2 separate regions of the Homo sapiens genome follow, and region 2 is reported to be linked to region 1. The links are microRNA targets in miRTarBase. Many come from high-throughput screens and were not tested one by one. Region 1 holds a microRNA gene; the other region holds the end of a gene's coding sequence.
What was found. Region 1 holds the annotated microRNA hsa-miR-665 (ACCAGGAGGCUGAGGCCCCU, at 1,788-1,807, opposite strand). A microRNA usually pairs through its seed, bases 2 to 8, with sites in the 3' UTR of a target mRNA and lowers its output. Matches are read on the target gene's strand: a 7mer-m8 pairs with bases 2 to 8, a 7mer-A1 pairs with bases 2 to 7 and ends in A, and an 8mer does both.

Region 2: miRTarBase lists PLEKHB2 as a target of hsa-miR-665. Seed matches in the 3' UTR shown: 7mer-A1 at 1,835-1,841.

What each region holds. Positions count from the first base shown.
Region 1 is chr14:100,872,815-100,876,881 of GRCh38, reverse strand. It overlaps MIR665 (microRNA 665), which reads right to left and starts at 1,849; the gene lies at 1,778-1,849. It overlaps MIR337 (microRNA 337), which reads right to left and starts at 2,389; the gene lies at 2,297-2,389. RefSeq lists an enhancer at 3,041-3,210.
Region 2 is chr2:131,145,980-131,150,036 of GRCh38, forward strand. It overlaps PLEKHB2 (pleckstrin homology domain containing B2), which reads left to right. Exons shown (of 8, transcript NM_001100623.2): 8 at 658-3,866. The coding sequence ends at 794. Among named protein-coding and RNA genes, the nearest start is that of PLEKHB2, 43 kb to the left of the region's middle.

The sequences.
Region 1 (4,067 bases):
CCACACCAGCAGACAGTGAGGACCTCGCCTCCTTGGCTCCCCTGCCCCATCCAGCCACAGCAGGTTTAGTTTACAGAGAAGAGCGGCAGCCCCCAGGCCCAGAGGAGAACTACTGATAAAGTGATACAACGGACTCTGGGGACTCCAGGAAAAGGGTGGGAGGGGGTGAGGGATAAAAGTACAAACTGGGTTCAGTGTGTACTGCTCAGGTGATGGGTGCACGAGAATCTCACAAATCACCACCAAGGAACTTACTCATGTAACCAAACACCACCTGTTCCCCAAAACCTATGGAAATAAAAAATTCAAAAGAAAAATAATACAAACCTTTTTTTCTCCTGGGGAAAGAAAAAGGAAGGTTAATGTTAAATGTCATGCTGGGTTATGACATCATGGCCACCACAAAAAAAGGTGAAAACTCCTCTGAACAGCAGACAGCACAGCCTGGCGCGGACACTGGCACACAGGCCCACGGGACCTGGCGGGCCACAACTAAATGCACCCATCTTCCACCTTCTCTGTCCACCCCCAGGTCACTGATGTCAGGGGATGGAGGGAGCCCTGAGCTCCACTCCTGCTGAGTCTTGTCCATCAACCTCCCTTCCCGACCCAGCCCACCCCCATGAGATGCCCAACGTGCCAGCCTCCAGCCCTGGTGCACACAGGGCCAGTTTCTGGAACACTCAACAGCACACCACCCAGGCAGCTGAGGGCTACTCACCGCTCGGGTCCGGACTCGCTCATCCCTCCTGCAGGCGGCCCCAGGTCCAGTTAGGGCCTTGGACTCAGGCCCCCGTGCCAGGAGCTTGACCAGCTCTTAACAATCTGCCCAGGGCAGAGACGTGAGGTCCCCTCCTGCCCACCTGGTGACCCCGGTTGCTCCCAAAGTGAAAAAGAGAAAGACAACAAATAGAAGCCATCACCCCCACTCCCAAGCTCCACCCACCCGCTCAGAGCCCTGCTGCGGGGACGACAAGACCCTTGTCATGCCCCAAGCCCATGAGCACTGACCTCAGACCCAAACAGTAAGCCTCGTCCAGACCCCTGTCCACCTGTCTGAGATCAACAAAGACAAGCATACCCATCCTGACACCACAGAAGCTGAGGGGTAGACCAGGAAGGGAGCGGGTGCATGGGGGAAGCGGGGGTGAGGAAGGGGAGACGGGAGGTGGGAAGGAAGGGCAGGGGAGAGGGTGCTCCCTCCTGCAGGAAGGGAGGGGGTGCATTGGGGAGGAGGGGTGAGAAAGGGAAGATGGGAGGTGAGTGGGAAGGGCAGAGGTGAGGGTGCTCCCTCCTACAGGAAGAAGGGGTGCATGGGGAAGGAGGGGTGAGGAAGGGGAGATGGGATGTAAGTGGGAAGGGCAGAGGTGAGGATGCTCCCTCCTGCACCCTCTTGTCCTCTCTAATGGCCTCAGCTACTGCAAGGCCTCTCTCCCCACACTGGCTGCCCTGCTGCCCCGATGCTCATGCCTGGGCTGGCTGTCGTGGCTTGTTAATGGGGTTAATGATGCCAATATCACAGGGCTTGGTGCGGGTCACCTCTGCCATGCACAGGACCTGAGTTAGTCAGAGAGGCAGAAGACAGAGGTCCAAGAACCAGGGGCCACGGCCGTGCCCCCTGCTCATGTTGCCATTGGGCACCCTCAGGTACCCAGCCTGAGCAGGGTACGCACAGGGGAAGAAGGGAGCCCAGCTGACAGCTTCTGGGGACCCAGAGTTGGGAATCCTTGGGGAGAGGGGAAATGTCTCCAGAACAGGTTTAAGGAGAGAGTAAGAAGCCGCCTGTGAGGGGCCTCAGCCTCCTGGTCATGAAAGAGTCCTGGGTAGAGGCAGAGACCCCTCGAGGAGACCCTCCTCTTGGGGCACAGAAAGGGCCAGCCCTGGTCCGCCAAAGCCCCACCCCCTCCACCCTGGGCACAAAGGGGCACCATCTCTCCAACGTCTGTCCATCCATCCTGTGGGCCGGGTCCCTTTGGAGGGCTCTGTGTGGGAGCACAGCCCCAGCCCCTCAGTGGGAGAAGCCCCAGGGCTACCCAACTCCCCCTCCGGCCTATCTGCCCTTGGCTGTGGAGTCAGCCCAGGGGGTGTCCCACCAGGGGCATAGTTCCCTGCCAAGGAGGGGCCTCAGAGATGGCCCAGCCCCAGGCCCTCCCCTCCAGGAAGTCAGAGAGCTGCAGAAGAGAGAGAGAAGAGCCCAAGGAGCATGCCGGGAAGAGGCTGGCAGGACAGCAGCGGACTTGAGGACGCGTCCCCGTGCAGCCAAGGGTGCAGAGGAGGGTCCGGGGGCTGCGCGTGGTTGAAGGGGATGAAGAAAGGCATCATATAGGAGCTGGATAACTGTGCATCAACTCCTGTATGAAGCCGTTCCCACCCCCCAACTACTGACTACGGGCCGCAACCCTCCTCCCGGAAGCGCAGTGCAAGCGCTCGGATGGCAGAGGGGACGCCTGCTGCTAGTGGTTAGAGCAGTGACAGCAAGGGACAGCCAGCCTAGGCAGTGCCACCCACTGCTGGGCACCTGCAGCGCTGGGGTACCTGTCCACCCTGCCCAGCCTTGCCCTACCTGCCTCCTATGGCCAGGGCCTGGGCCTCCCTTAGCCCCACAGAGCCCCCAGGTGACTGTGCAGCCAGGCCAAGGGACGGAGGATGGGGAGGTGAAGGGGGAGACAGGCCTGATTCTGGCCCAGGTCTGTGAGTGGACATCGGGGACTCGACCCCACCCACCCACTGCTTTGACTCCCTGGTACTTCTCCAGCCTTGCCTTCTACATCTGTGAAATGGGTTGCAACAGGCACCTCTGGGGACCCAGTGAGGACTCATGAAGTCCAGGGGCACTTCAAGAATTTCCCAGAGACAGAAAGTAGATTTTTGGTTGCTGAGGGCTGGGGGGTGTGCATGGAGGGTGAAGGTGACAGCTGAAGGCTCTGGAGTTCTTTTGGGGGTGATGAAAATGATCTTAAATTGATTATGGTGATAGTTGCAGATATCTGTGAATAACTAAAACACACTTCGCTGTGAGCTTTAATGGGCGGATTGTGTGTATGTGGATTACATCTCAATAAAGTTGTACCCCAAAACACCTTCCTTTGTTCTTTGACATCTTTCTCAACCACCATACTGCCTGCCTCGTCCTACACTCTCCAGCCATCCACACCACCAACACACATGCACAGGGACACGCAGCCAGGCACGTGGTAGGTGGTGCAAAAATATCTGTGAGTAAATGACCTGATAATATAACATTCTCTGAAAGAGCCCATGGAGGGAAACCTTTAGGGAAAGGGGTTAAAGATTAAGAAGTAGGGGTGGCAGGAGGGTATGGAGGTGGGAAAGAGGCTCAGAGTGACACATGAATGGAAAAGGGGCTCAGATTGACAGACACATGGAGGGAGGAGGGGCTCCCTGTAACACATGGGTGGAGGAGGGGGCTGGTGTGACACACGGGTGGGGGAAGAGCTCCATGGGACACATGGGTGGAGGAGGGGGTTGGTGTGACCCATGGGTGGAGGAGGGGGCTGGTGTGACACATGGGTGGGGGGGGTTAGTGTGACACATGGGTGGAGGAGGGGGCTGGTGTGACACACGGGTGGGGGAAGAGCTCCATGTGACGCATGGGTGGAGAGGGGGTTGGTGTGACACATCAGTGGAGAGAGGGTTGGTGTGACACATGGGTGTGGAGAGGGGCTCCATGTCACATAAGTAAGGGAGGGGCTCAGGGCAATGCATGAGTGGGGGGAAGGTCTCTGGGTGATGCATGGGAAGGGGAGGACTTCAAGTGACATGTGAGAGAAGCTCAGGTGACACATTAGTAGGGAAAAGGCTCCTCATGACACATGAGTGAAGGAGAGGTGGAATGTGAGACAGAAAAGGGGCTCAGTGTGACGTGTGTGGGAAGAGAGTCTCTGTGTGACATATGGGGGGAAGGGACTTGGAGTAACACAAGAAAGGCGACTTGGTGTGACACGTGGGTGGGAAGAGTCTCTCTGTGACATATGGGGGCAGGGACTTGGAGTAACACAAGAAAGAGGACTTGATGTGACACGTGGGTGGGGGAAGATCTCACGGGA
Region 2 (4,057 bases), not on the chromosome of region 1:
AGACCATCCTGGCTAACACGGTGAAACCCCGTCTCTACTAAAAATACAAAAAATTAGCCAGGCGTGGTGGTGGGCGCCTATAGTCCCAGTTACTCAGGAAACTGAGGTGGGAGAATAGCTTGAACCTGGGCGGTGGAAGTTGCAGTGAGCTGAGATCATGCCACTGCACTCCAGCCTGGGGACAGAGCAAGACTCCTTCTCAAAAAAAAAAAAAAGTTATATGTGCAGATTTAAGGCTTAATTTAAAAATTGGTTTGCGTGCATACTAAGAAGCTCATTTGCTTTAAGTGAGCATTTCCTTTTTGGGCTTTTGTTGGGCACTGTGTGTCTCCCATGTTCCCCATTTGTCTGCCACCCAATAAGCATGGTGTCGAGGGCTGAAGTAGAAATCAGAGGCTAGAATCTGAAAGCTTCATTAGGGTTCTGCTTTTTGCAGATTAGGGACTTTGGCCCTTAGTGAGCTGAGGATCTTGGTTTCCTCCCAGTGTGCGGTTTCAGGGATGTCGGCCACATGATGTGCCTGTTGTGGAGGAGGGCTGGGTCGCCAGTGTGACAGGAGACAGCAGATCCCTTTTGTGAAAGGAGAACTGGTACTTTGCGTGATGTTAAACTTCACAAACCGCTGCTCAGAAATCTGCTATTTTCCTTCTCTTTTAGGACTTTATGGACAGCAGCCTGCTAACCAAGTCATCATTCGAGAGCGCTATCGAGACAACGACAGCGACCTGGCACTGGGCATGCTGGCAGGAGCAGCCACGGGCATGGCCTTAGGGTCTCTATTTTGGGTCTTCTAGGGGCCTCAAGGTCTTGATGTGCATAGCTTCTGATAACCCTGTGTGCAATAATATGATTTGCAGGGCATTTCTGTTTGTGACAAAAGTTTTTAATAATAGTTTTAATCATTCCTTTGAAAGTAGTGATGTCATAATTGTACTAATCCACATAAGTACCACAGAGAAGGGTTTGAACTGTGCTATTTTGTTCAAATGTTGACTCTCCGGGGGCACTGGCTCATTCCAAGACTGTTCTTGTGCAACTCTCAGAATACCTTATTTGAGCATACCTGTTTTGAAAGGCATTTTCTTTTTAGAGTTAGGTGTAGTGCTTAAGGGTTAATTTATTTTCATGTTATGCCAGTAATATAGTGTTGTATGCCTATTGAGTGATTGTGGCAAGAAAAGCTACAGCTTCTTTGCGTTTAACTTTTTCAAACCACAGACCAGAACTGGTTGCATGTTACTTTAGGAGTTGTGGGTTGGTAAGCTCCCAGGTACTTCCCGAGGCTATGGTGTGAGAGCCCCCGTCCTGCCCTCTGGGGCTCCACAGGCCCCTGGCAAGGCCGATGGCTCAGGATGATGGGGCACAGCCCGCCTTTGAACAATCATGCTTCAGAAATCTGCCTGACCCTAGCTGCTGCTGCTGCTCACTTTATTCTTGTATGGCTTTGGTAGGCATACTTGGAGAACATATCCCACATTAGGAATTGATTTAAGCCTGAGAGTTTGAGGGCTTTAATCCTTTAAAACTTGGAGAAGCTGGCTGGGCGCGGTGGCTCACGCCTGTAATCCCAGCACTTTGAGAGACCGAGGCGGGCGGATCACGAGGTCAGGAGATCGAGACCATCCTGGCTAACACGGTGAAACCCCATCTCTACTAAAAATACAAAAAATTAGCTGGGCGTGGTGGCAGGCGCCTGTGGTCCCAGCTACTCGGGAGGCTGAGGCAGGAGAATAGTGTGAACCCAGGAGGCGGAGCTTGCAGTGAGCCAAGATAGTGCCACTGCACTTCAGCCTGGGTGACAGAGTGAGACTCTGTCTCAAAAAAAAAAAAAAAATCCTGGAGAAGCCAGAACAATATACAAACAAGTATGTGGAGGCAGATTTGCTTTATTCCAAGAGGCTGTTTGAGTGTGTGTCTGCCTAAGCCTCCTTATAGCCTATTTTTCTACTTGCTGAGAGAGTAATATTAAAGGAACAGTGAGGGAGTGGAAGGAGAGCCTTAGTTAGAGCGTTCCCATTTCTGGCCTTTGGGGGTTTGCACTGTGCGGGAGATGCTCTCTCATCACTCTGAAGGCCCATCCTGTGCAGAAGTGGGACTCTGTGGCTGTTCACTGAGCACCAGGGCAGACTGTAGCTGAGCAGACTTGGGTTATGGATGGGATATGGGGCCCAGGGACCCTCAGGACACAGGGACCGGCTCAAGGTACCACTCAGCCTGGCCAGGACCCCCAGCTTTGCTTTTGTTCTTGATCTCTTTGTGATAGAGAAGCTTAGAACATTGAATTTGGAACCCCAAAATGTGTGAGTCTTTGGAAAACCCATTCCAGCCTTTCTTCAAATGCTCTTATTTTCAGTATATGAAGTGTGTATTTGAAATATTCATATTTCTGTTATTTCTTGTTTTCAAGCTCTGAATTATTGCAGTTTTCTGTCCTGCATGCTTTCAACAGTGTGCTTTTACAGTGGCAGTTTAGCACAGCGAATGTCCCTGCCCCACACTCCATATGGTCCTGTTTTCCTGAAAATACACTCCAGGTAGCACAGACTTGTTATTTTGCCTGGCTGGTTACACACATGCTGTCTTGCTTTGCTGCTCAGCCACCTCCCTCTGAGGCCAACTTAGGCCAACCTACATAGGACTCCATCTTTAGCGAGACACCAGAGACACCTAGTGATGACCACGGGTCTGCTTTTCTCTCTGATCCTAGGGGACTTGTTGACATGGGAGTGTCTGTTTCCACATGGAAGGATGTCTGTTTATCTCTCATCTCTGAATAGATGTATGACAACTCTAGTGTCCATGGTTTAAAATGTTGCTTTGAGGATTTTCCATCCTGTATAAGAAGAATGGCTTTCTTCAGATTATAATCGTTATTAAAGCTGTATGTACACTTTACTTAAAAACTATTAACAGTTTTTCATGTTGCACTGGTGGTAATTTTGAACTTGGAATTACTGGGTGGGAATTCCAGGAACCACAGAGTATTGATTTTTGCTGCCAAAATGCTCTTGAAGCAGATGTCCCTGTGCTCCCCTGGCTGCTTCTGGCTGAAGGGGGGAGGTGTAGACTGAAGCTTGGGCACTCATGTGTGTCCCCTCCCCAGTCCCCATCCTAGTGGGGCCAGTCTCATTAGGCAGCCATAGATAAGCCTGGAACTTGGCTGTCATTAGTGACTTGATCCTGGTATGAAATGCATACTGGGTATAAGGTTGCTCAGGTATTTTATTTCCTTGGCCACAACTCCCATAGATGCCAATGTTTTGATAGCCTCAGTTTCTCAACGATGTCTTTTGTTTACAGTGCTACACTTAGTGTGAGTCAAGAAGTGCTTGAGTTACAAGAAACTTCTTATTCAGGTTTGAGTAAGCATTTTACTTCCATGTGTACTTTTAAATAATCCATACCTTGAAGAAGTTGGCCAATGATATTATATACATGCTGATCTGATTGTTCTTTTCATTCCTTGAGTCAACTTCAGGGTCTTGGATACTAAAGAGAAGGAGAACTGTGGTTAATGTTTTGGATCATCATTTGTGAACAAGGCCAGACTTTGCCCATTTTAGGCTATCCAGGACTTAAGGTAGCCATCTGGATCATAAGAAGGTCCTGCAGTTGAGACAAAATGACCCAAGTGTATTTTCCACAAGTTTTGATCCTGTGTAATATTTCTTTTTCCTTCCCTAGTGTATGTAGATACAAGGCATGGAATGCAGTTCCACTTTCTCCCCAGAGTTGATCTTTTTGTGATTGCTTTCCCGTCTCTAGTAGTATTCTGTTGTGTCTAGAGAACTGATTTTTTCCTACATACGCAAATTGTACATTTGTAAGTGAAAATGTCAATACATTAAAGCATTAACCTTAAAGCATGTTTCATTGTGACTTCTGTTGTCTTTAAAAAATTACTTTGTAGTAACATACTCTCAGCTTTTTCTGCTGTCCTGGATCATAAGAATGCCATTTATTGAGGACCTACCAAATGCTAGTATATTGTCACATTAGAGACAACTCACTGAATTCTTAGTGACTCTGTAAGGGAGGTATTATCCAAGTTCCACTG